Regions from separate parts of the Homo sapiens genome. Here region 2 is linked to region 1. Evidence: fine-mapped expression QTL. Tissue or cell type: testis. Region 1 holds a variant in brackets; the other region holds the start of a gene. All regions are shown on one strand. Distances are between the middles of the regions.

Region 1 (5,145 bases):
TCCGTGGAGAGTTTCCTGTAGCACGTGGCTCCGGCATCCACGTTTCCGTGGAGACTTTTCCTGTAGCCCGTGGCCCCGGCATCCATGTTTCCGTGGAGAGTTTTCCTGTAGCACGTGGCTCCGGCATCCACGTTTCCGTGGAGAGTTTTCCTGTAGCCTGTGGCCCCGGCATCCACGTTTCCGTGGAGAGATTTCCTGTAGCCCGTGGCCCCGGCATCCACGTTTCCGTGGAGACTTTTCCTGTAGCCCGTGGCCCCGGCATCCATGTTTCCGTGGAGAGTTTTCCTGTGGCACGTGGCCCCGGCATCCACGTTTCCGTGGAGAGTTTTCCTGTAGCCCATGGCCCCGGCATCCACGTTTCCGTGGAGACTTTTCCTGTAGCCCGTGGCCCCGGCATCCACGTTTCCATGGAGACTTTTCCTGTAGCCTGTGGCCCCGGCATCCATGTTTCCGTGGAGAGTTTTCCTGTAGCACGTGGCTCCGGCATCCACGTTTCCGTGGAGAGTTTTCCTGTAGCCTGTGGCCCCGGCATCCACGTTTCCGTGGAGAGTTTTCCTGTGGCACGTGGCCCCGGCATCCACGTTTCTGTGGAGAGTTTTCCTGTGGCACGTGGCCCCGGCATCCACGTTTCCGTGGAGACTTTTCCTGTAGCCTGTGGCCCCGGCATCCACGTTTCCGTGGAGAGTTTTCCTGTGGCACGTGGCCCCGGCATGTTGTTTGGGTGCATGGGGACTTAATGTGCTGCTAGAGATGCTGATTGAGCAGAGCCTACAGACAGGAGAGCTTTGTCTGGGGTGGAGCCTACTGAGCCCATGGGGCAGGGTTTGGCCATACACAGGCCCCAGTAGGGGACCAAGAGGGCCACAGGAGAAGAACTGGCATACCTTACTGGGCTTCTAGTAGTGATAGCCGTTTGCTGCCAAGACATTTCCTAGGAGAGGGAGGCTATCATGTCAAGGTTGAGCCGGGTCCTCAGGCCCTTGTAAAGGAGGGTCTACGCTTGGGGGTTTGTGGTTACTTGTGTGCTCTGTACCCAGGGGTATGGTGCACAGGTTTCACCGGGTGCCATTCTGCTCTTTTGCCCAGAGAAGCTCAGCGGCTTTGCTGCCTCAGGGAGGCAGGAGTGGCTCTTTGGAGGAGCAGTTGATCCCCGGGATGCTAGTGCTCTGCCTGAGCAGATGTGGGGCCTCAGGGCCTCAGGACTTCAGAGCCCAGGGCTGACTGACCTAGGGACAGGAGTGTAAGGGATGTGGGCAACGAAGAATTCCACAGGGCTGTATTTCCAGACTCCCATGGGTGGGTGTGGGTGGAGAAGCCCCAGTGAGCTGGTTATCTCCCACCAAACAAAACTGGAGGTCCCTTTGCAGAGACTCTTGCAGTTCATGTCCACATGACTTCTCTGAGAAGCAGGAGAGACTCAGCGCAGAACTCAGGGGAGTCGCACTCGGGAGAGGCAGCGTCTCCTCTGGAGCACACAGACCTTATGTCCTTCCCTCCAGCTGTCAGCCAGACATGCCCCAGTTGTCTTGCATATATACATATGTAATGGTAACAAGGAATTCTGCTTGAGCCTTGCCAATCAGCCCAGTGAGCAGGTTTCTGCAGCATCTTGTCTCCTGGGATAGATACTCAGAAAGTGAACCCTGTGCACTTTGGGGCCTTGTCTCTCAGCTTCTGTTGACACATAAGAAAAGAGACACACAGAGGACCCCACGCCCCATCTTCAAAGTGTGAAGCACACTCCCCGGCTGATACGATTCTTGTCGATTCACTTACGGAATCTTCCAATATGCTTTTCCTCCCTATACCCCACATCCCTGTCACAGAGTTGAGAATTGGATTACCTGGTGGGCAGGTGGGCCCCAGTTAGAGGCCGCTCACACCGGCTCAGTGCAGATGACCAGTGGCAGATGGGAACCCAGGAGGCCTAGAGATCTTGGGTGATAGGGAAGCTCCCGCAGCTCCCTCCTCACTAGTCCAGGCACCGGAGCCTGCGGTGGGAGCCCTGTCATCTCAGCGACGGCCTGCGGGTGACTTACAGCTCAATGAGGGGAGGCACAGAGTAGGTGCACACAGTAGGTGCCGAATCTGAGTGGTTTTATTCGTTCCTCTGTAGACCTCGTATTAGGCTGTCTCCTTGACTACCAAATCTGCTTTCCTCTGTGTTTATGCTCTGGAAGGTAATCCGAAGCCCTTTAATGGGATGGAAGCATTTCCAGATAAGAAGAGGGTGCTGTGGCCAGAGGCACAGGGCTGCCTGGGGCCAGGAGTGGCCAGAACCCTAGAGAAGAATTGCATTTGGGGATGCACATCAAAAACACGAGGAAAAGAAAGAAAGTGGGTGGGAATAGCGTGCCTTCGGCAGAATCCAAACTCACTTCCAAGGCAAAGCCAGGGCCCAACACGAGAATATTCATTTCCTGTTTCATTGTTGGTTACTTAATGACCTTCCTTTGAAATGCTGCAGTTATGTAG[A/C]AAGCAGGTTGTCATGGAAACGGGGAGTGACGTGCAGGGAATAGGTACACAATGCGTTTCTTTGTCATGTCCAGCTGATGCGTTCAGCCTCTGCTCAGACATGGGAATTTATGTGAGGAATTAAATATTAACTGGAGGCATTGCCCTGGAGAGAGGCAGAAACACAGGGTGACAAAAGATGCTGGAAACCAGGGCAAAGAGCATGCTGGGGCCCCCGGGATCCTGCGGGAGGCAAAGCTGATTTGAGACCATGGGTGGATCTCACTTTCTTCAATCAATGGGCTCCAGAGAAGTCGTGCAAAACAATCTTCTTTTTCAAATGCATATGTACTGTGCATTCTTTTGAGGGGCAGAAGGATCTGGTTGTAATGCGAATAATTACTCATTAGTCAGCTCATTTTCAAAGTTGGAGGGGTGACATGCCAAGTTTTCTCAAGGTGGCTCTCAGCTGCCTTGTCCCAGCACTCTGCTGGCCGTGGTTGTCAGTGGGAACCAACACCTAGAGCTGGGACAACAGTGCAGGGGACTGCAGGAAGACTCCAGGGAGGCCCCAAGTCAGAGAGAAATTGTCTCTTGTTCCTGAAGCAGCCATGGAGCCATGACCTTGTCTGTTTCTCCGGTGGATTCCAGGAAATAGGCATTGAATATATGATGTTAAAAAAGTGCCTCAAGTTTCTCACTTTCTCCCCTTGAGCCAGCACGGCTGGCACCCACCAAGCTTTCCTTTTCTGACCTTGAACCTTTTTAAACCCTCAGAAAATGAGTTCCGAGGTGAGCTGTTAAATCAGAGGTGGACACACGGAGGCAAGGCCAGCAGCTGCAGGACCTCAAGACACCTGGGCAGACACTGCAAGGTGAGACGTGAGAGGGCAGCCCCTGTCGTAGGGCCCCACCCCATGGCTGCCTGCACAAAGCCTCTCTTCAGCTGCAGGCATGAAGCATGGAGGCGACTTTTGGTCTGATCCTCACCAGAGTCCGGGTTAGGTGAAGGGTAAATGGGGACTAGGATCAGCAATGATCCGGTCACTTTAAAATTAAGGGAAGAAAAATGACTCTGAGTAGATCAAAACTAAAATGTGACCCCAGGCTGGGCCCGGTGGCTCACACCTGTAATCCCAGCACTTTGGGAGGCTGAGGCAGGTGGATCACTTGAGGTCAAGAGTTCAAGACCAGCCTGGCCAACATGGTGAAACCCCGTCTTTACTAAAAACACAAAAATTAGCCGGGCATGGTGGCATGCGCCTGTAATCCCAGCTATTTGGGGGAGGATCCCAGCTAAGGTGGGAGGATCACTTGAGCCTGGGAAGTCAAGGCTGCAGTGAGCTGAGATTGTGCCACTGCACTCCAGCCTGGGTGCAGATCTTATCTCAGAAGTAAAGGGACTAGGAATGGTGGCTTTTATCTCTAATCCCAGCACTTTGGGAGGCTGAGGCAGGTGGATCACTTGAGGTCAAGAGTTCAAGACCAGCCTGGCCAACATGGTGAAACCCCGTCTTTACTAAAAACACAAAAATTAGCCGGGCATGGTGGCATGCGCCTGTAATCCCAGCTACTGGGGAGGCTGAGGCAGGAGAATCACTTGAACCTGGGAGGCAGAGGTTGCAGTGACCCAAGATTGTGCCACTGCACTCCAGCCTGGGTGACAGAGCAAGACTCCATCTCAGAAAACAAGCAAGCAAGCAAACAAAAAAAACCCACCAAAATGAAAATGTGACCCCAGAGTCTCACTTCCTTGCTTTGAGGTGTGACCACGTCTGGGCTCTGTGATAGGCCTGAGCAACTGTTCTCTATTCACCCTGCTTTTACCTGGCCAGGCTGAGAATCCCTACAGGATCTGACAGCAGAGATTGCTGGCAGGAGCTTATGAAGTCTGTTGGCCTTGTTTTATTTCGATCTTCCTAAGGGGAGGCAGATGGTGCAAGCCCTTCTTATACCTTCCCAGGGTATAAGATCTCCCTTCGGGGACACTCCCGAACTGTGACATCACATGTGCTTACAGCCACTGTTCTCCACCACCAACCCTCTAATTCTAGAACTTCCCACCAATACTCTCTGGATGAGGCCAGGTCCCCAGGGTCAGGTGACCCTCACAGCTGGAAGTAGAGGCTGACAATAGGCTTAGGCTGAAGCCCTTCCCAGAGATCCGATTCTGACCTCTCTTTTTTCTTTTTTGCATGTAGATGCTCTCCAGCAAGGATCCAGCTGTGACTCAGGGCATGGCTCAAGGACAGTGATGGCGTAGGGTGTAGGCAAGGAGGGCTATGCAGTTGTAGTGGGAACTTCATTTGGGGGTGCTTGTGTTTTACTCTCAAAACCCAACCTTTTTCTTTTGAATCTGGTGGCGAGAATGTACATTTTAATGGGTCTGTTATAGACAACTTGCTGAGCACCTCCGCTCATATTTTGGCTCCCGCAGGATTATCAGTGCTCTGCTGATCCATGTTGGAGCCTGGGGCACAAGGAAGAGTCAGTAATATGGATCCTGTCTTTATTTAAGGTTTTGGTATCTTGTTTATTAGGGGTTTTTTGCATCATGTTGATGTTTCTAAATATTGAATTAAAATATTATTTATCTTGATCATTGAGTTTTTGGCCTCATTCCCCTCACCCTACCCCAGATCCTGAGGATTCACATAGCGCTGTACTGGCATGAGATCATGTGAGCATGAA
Region 2 (5,145 bases), 25 kb before region 1:
ATCATTAAGCCTGCTCCCCCACTCACACAAAGCGCTTTCTCAGCGAGTGCGGCTGCGGCGTAAGTTTGGTTTTGCAAATCTCCCGTTTCCCTCCCCGTGTGGAGTCTGAGGACCCGCCAGTCAGACAGGAGTTATTTCCTGGTGGATCTTTCCAAACATATTATTAAAAAGTCACATGTGACTTTCCCACAGACTTTTATGAAATAAAACCCAAAGGAACAGCGTGCAACATGCTCAGTTATGGAAGAGAAAATATTTTATGATTTCAAAAAGTCCTGACAAATTTTCACCCTCTCTAAGAAAGGAAGCTTAAGACTATACCTTGCTGTTGTCACTTACAAGCAGGGATCTGTTGGGGTTTGGAATTCTCTGTCTCAGCCCGGAGCCCAGAGTTCAGCGATAGCTGAATACTGGTGCGAGCTCAGAAGCTTCCGTGTGCGGAGAACAAAGACTGAGGCGCTCTGGGGGGAGAGCGCTGTCCGAAGTGCTGATCAGACTTCGGATCCACCCACCGCTCAGGCCGCCTCCCAGGGGCTGAAGGGCGGCAGCCGAACCGGAGAGACGTGCCGGCGGCCGCTCTTCTGTCCTGCTCTTTTCCCTGGACTCCTTTGTCTTGACGGGGTCAGCTAAAGACTTCGAACCTTTACTCATCAAAGCTCATCTTCGGAAACTGCTCATAGCACTTTAACCTCCCGGTGGGAGCTCCCAGGGCGCCCTAGGTCCTGCCAGCAGGCACCGATTTCAAGTTTCCAGGCACATTCTGAATGCTCCTCCTGGCAGCGCCACAGAGGGTCTGGGGGCCCATTCCCGACCCCCGGAGCGCCACACCTCAGGAGGCCTGTGATTGTTCAAAAGGGGAAGTGAGAAATGCCGAAAGACTTACGTTTTCACAAATACAATTTCTATTACCTGAAAAAACTGTTGTGCCCCACGAAGCCCGTGTTGCGCAGGTTCATCTCTCCTGCTGCCACCTCCGCTTCGCTGTGGTTTCTTAGGTGTGACTGTTGCATATCTGAATTAAGTCGCTTTCATGAAACCTTGGGTGTCGTTGGGAAATAAGGCTGATTCAGCAACGGCCCTCCCTTTGATTCTGTATTCATCATGGAACAATGGCCCGCAAGCCTGCCCGGAGCCTGCAGCCTGCCGATAAGAGTTTAATAGAATTTCTGAATGCCGAAGGTTTGGGGTGTAAGACATCCTAGCACTCACAGCATGTCCAGAGGAGACAGAAACGGCTTTTCAGGAGTGCTCTCAGCTGAATGTGTCCTTTTATACTAATGGATATAAGTTTATGACAGAAATTAAAAATGGTAGGCAGTCATTGTGGAAACCTCGAACTGTTCTCATTTGACTAATTAATATTTCATCCTCAGTTTGACCAGTGCAGGCTTGCATTTATGTCCTTGTGCTCAATCTGAACAATTGCTCTGTGTGCATTTTGTGTTTTATTTGTTGAGGATAATGTGTGCGTATAAGAATCTAAGATACTTGCCTTTGGGGTGAAGCTTTTGGTTTGTATGTAACGTGTAAAGCACAAACTGTATGTTAAAAATAAGCCACTAAGATTTTCAAAACATGCTCTCTTAGAGAAAGCTGTGTTCAGTTCTGCCTCAGTCACACTTTTGGTGGCCCGAGCCCTTTAGCGCTAATTAAGTTGGGGTATTGTGCTCTTGCATAATTTACCAAGAAATGATGTTTACTGTCTGTTGAAATCTCTGCACTGAACTTCTGAGATGTGAGTTTTCTGCTTCTCCAGCTGCCCTTGGACGGCGGCATCTTTGCAGGCGTCTCACATTGAGTTTTCACCCTTGTGTTTCACAGTTTCATTTCTAACATCCTGATTATGATAATGGACAATCGTTTGCCTGATTTATCAGTACAAGAAGGAGATTTGGGCCGCAAACAAGAATACTCTGGCTCTTGAGTTCTCTTACTGAAGAAATTCCCACTTTATCCCTGAATGTGGGGGAAAATATCACAAACTGGCAGATGAGAAGGCAGACAGTCAGGCTGCATAGAGAGTGGGTGAGCACTTCTATTGTGTGTGTTATGGATTTTTCTCTTCTTGATTTTCACTGGATAGCTCCTTTCAGGCCGTTTATAAAAGAATCAGGAAAAGAGCAGAAAACTTGGGCAGTGTGCTTCGCTCTGGTTGCAATAAACTTAGTCTTTTTGTGGGGGGGTTCCCATGCCCAGGAATCCCTGAGTTCTCTTTGGGAAGGTTTTTATTATTGTAAAAATTAAAGTGAAAAGGGAAAGTGTGAGAACAGAAAAATGTCTTTTCCTGATCTATTCTTTGTGTGCATGACTCTATTTTTTGGTCTGTGGCTATAGTTACCTTTTATGCCGTTAAAAAATACATATCCATTTAAGTCAGGGGTACTTGAATATGCAGATGAGCCGATATGTAATATTCCTGGTTCATTTGAGTAATAAATTCTGCAGCCCGCTCTTTATGATGGTAGATCATATTCCTCACCACCAATAAATATTGTAAAGTACTTTCGCTGTAGCCATGCTAACCCGGGGCATCTGTCATTCCGGTTGCTGCTATTAGGAATTATTGGACTGAACCACTGGCAGAGAAAGCAGAGGGGGGTGAATGTGGTGGTTGTGATGCTCTCTGCCCTTTTGTGTGTTTTGCTTTTTAAAAAAACTCAATCATGCTGCACATTGAGTATGAATCAGTGTGGACAAACATAGGCACCTTCTGTTGGCCGAGGCTCAGAGCAGGACACAGGACTCCACCGGACTGGGACACCTCTCACCCCCAATTCAGCAGATCCATCTTTCTGATGCTATACTGTAAATTTATTTCACCTCAGAGAGTAAACAGATATATTGGAGCCCCAAGGGTTCATGGGTAGCGTATTTACAAAGGAGCCTCCTCCGCCAGCCCGTGCCACCGCTGCTAATGAGAGCAGTCATTAAGTAAATGAGACGTCGCCTTTAGCTGGCTTAGGAGTTCGCACACTAAGGGGAGAAGATATTTAATTGAAACCCGCACGCAGGCTTCCCCACATGTGACCGCTGTACGGGAGGCAGCTGCCTTCCCTCTCCTCCCCCAGTCCACCCTGCACCCCCCATGTAAATTTCATGATTGCTTTCCGTGATGTCATTTTGAAAGAGGACAGACAATAGCTGTGGGGAAAGGTAAGTCAACGTTACGTTCTTTCTGACAAAGGCAGATACCCAACGCTTGGCTTTTCCTCTTGGACAGAGACAGGGAGAGGGCGCGCGGGCAGAGTTAATTTCTAAGATGAAGGCTCTGTTTGCAGGAAAAGCAGGTCTGAGGATGGCTTTTTGAAACTGCTCTGGAGGACGGGGGCTTTCTTCTCCTCCCTGGCCTGCCGTGTGCTGTTTTTCTCCTGTCTCTCTGTTGTTCATGCTCCTCTGAGATTCCAGGGGACATGTTGTGCGTCTGACAGAGGAGACATTAGGGGAAGGGGAGCGCATATCAAAACCAGAAACTTTATGCGCATTTCTGGAAGAGGAACAACGGATATGTCTGTGGCCGTGGGACCCAGCAGCCCCGTACCTGGGGAGAGCACTGGCCGCTTAAGCAGAAGACCTCTCTGAAGCAGGGTCTCAGAGTCTGGGGTGTGTCATGTGTGACCCCCACCCAAGGTACTGAGGAGAGGTGCTCACGTGAACGTTTTGTCTGCATGTCATGCATTTCTCAACTTAAGGATCAATATCTAGGGTGCATGCGTCTGTGGGATAGATGTGCAGAAGTAAATATCGGCCGCTCCTCTCAGCCCCTTTTTTCGCTACGTGTCCGTGCAGCTGTGGAGTGTGGTTGTTTATGGTGGTAGTGTAACTGGATTTTTGTATTTAAAACTAAAAATCAGGGTTAGCTAAGAAGTTGAACACCCTAATGCCATTGTCTGTAGTTCTGGGGCCGTGGACTTTGGTTCTGTCTATTGAATTCACTTTCTTCTCTATAAACCAGGAAAATAAACAAGTGCTGGTGGCTTTGTGTTGGAGTGGTGGGTTCTCACTGCTCCTCCTGAGTCACCAAGGGCTTTGCTTGTCTCAGCATCACCTTTGAATCAGTGGACACCATTGGCTGGTAAAGTTGGGTGTTTAATTTTGGAAACCAAACATTTGCGGTGGTGCGGGGGGTTCCGTGGCTGCAGGTGGGTTTGGTCCTGGGCATGGACTCTGTCACGATGATGATAATGGCAGCGATGATTATAATTATCCTTTTGGGAGAGGTCGGTGGAGAATTTTGCCCTTGCAGTTTTTTTTTTTCTTTTAAATCACAGAAAACTGAGGACACCTCTAACGCCAGTGGCTGAGTGCACAAAAGGTGGGAGGGATGTGGGGCAGACCTGGGGGGGCCCACTCGGTGCTGAGGGGTATGCTCTGCCTCTGTCTCCTCTGAGGTGCCAGCAGAGCCTGTCCTGGCCTCACTCTGGCCTGGGGAGTGGGGGTGCTGTATCCTCTACAGGGCTGACTGAGGGAGGCTCCCCTCGGCCCCCAGCCTCCCTGCCACCCCGGGCTCCCCTCCCATTGGTCCTTGGCTGTGATTATCGCCTCCTTCCATATGGCCCTGTTAATTAACGGTAAACAAAAGAGTAAGAGAGCAGGGATTGGAGTCCTGTGGTACCAGCCAGGGTGCTGCTATCAGTAGAGGCAGGACCCTGCCCTGTCTCCCTCGGTAGCTGTTCCTTGTGCAGAGGAGGCTGGGTCAGGGCTTAGAGGGCAGTTTGTTTTCAAAGAGAAGGAGGCAGTCTTATGGATTCTTCTGTCCCGTAGAGACTGAGACTCCTACAGGGTCCCCCCGACCCCCTGGGCACCTGGACGTTTGCCGAACTTCCCAGGGGTACTTGCTGATCCAGGAGCTTGAGCAGGAGCCACAGAGAGTTGGACAAAGAGGCCTTTCTGCTCTGGAACAGCCTCGGCTCTGACCTCCTTGGGCCATGAATCCCTGAAGAGGGCCTGGTAGCCCTCTTCAGAGACCCGAGGCAGGGGGGCTGCTTCTGTCCAAAGTGCCACTCGAGGGTTTTTGTGACCCTCAGCCATTGCCCACAGATCTGGAGGTAGCCTCAGTTGTTCAGAGCTAATGCTCTGGCCCCTCTTGGAAGATTCTGGCAAAGGCAGTGGTCACCTACTCCCTTGAATGCCCCTGGTGCATGAGTG

Which allele goes with the higher level. Positions count from the first base shown, and alleles are read on the strand shown. Sizes are in standard deviations (SD) of each study's normalised expression.
In carriers of allele A in region 1, the expression in testis of the gene that starts at base 2,866 in region 2 tends to be lower than with C alone (moderate effect, 0.64 SD a copy in GTEx).

The links. PIP is the estimated chance that this variant, and not a neighbour inherited with it, causes the effect.
Region 2: it holds the start of MYT1, and the variant in region 1 is fine-mapped to the expression of MYT1 in testis (GTEx, PIP 0.97).

Annotation. Positions count from the first base shown.
Region 1 is chr20:64,186,832-64,191,976 of GRCh38, forward strand. It overlaps MYT1 (myelin transcription factor 1), which reads left to right. Exons shown (of 23, transcript NM_004535.3): 2 at 3,232-3,329. Among named protein-coding and RNA genes, the nearest start is that of MYT1, 25 kb to the left of the region's middle. RefSeq lists enhancers at 961-1,898, 1,899-2,836. The variant A/C (reference allele first, on the strand shown) is at 2,476.
Region 2 is chr20:64,161,587-64,166,731 of GRCh38, forward strand. It overlaps MYT1 (myelin transcription factor 1), which reads left to right and starts at 2,866. Exons shown (of 23, transcript NM_004535.3): 1 at 2,866-3,153. RefSeq lists an enhancer at 1-1,224.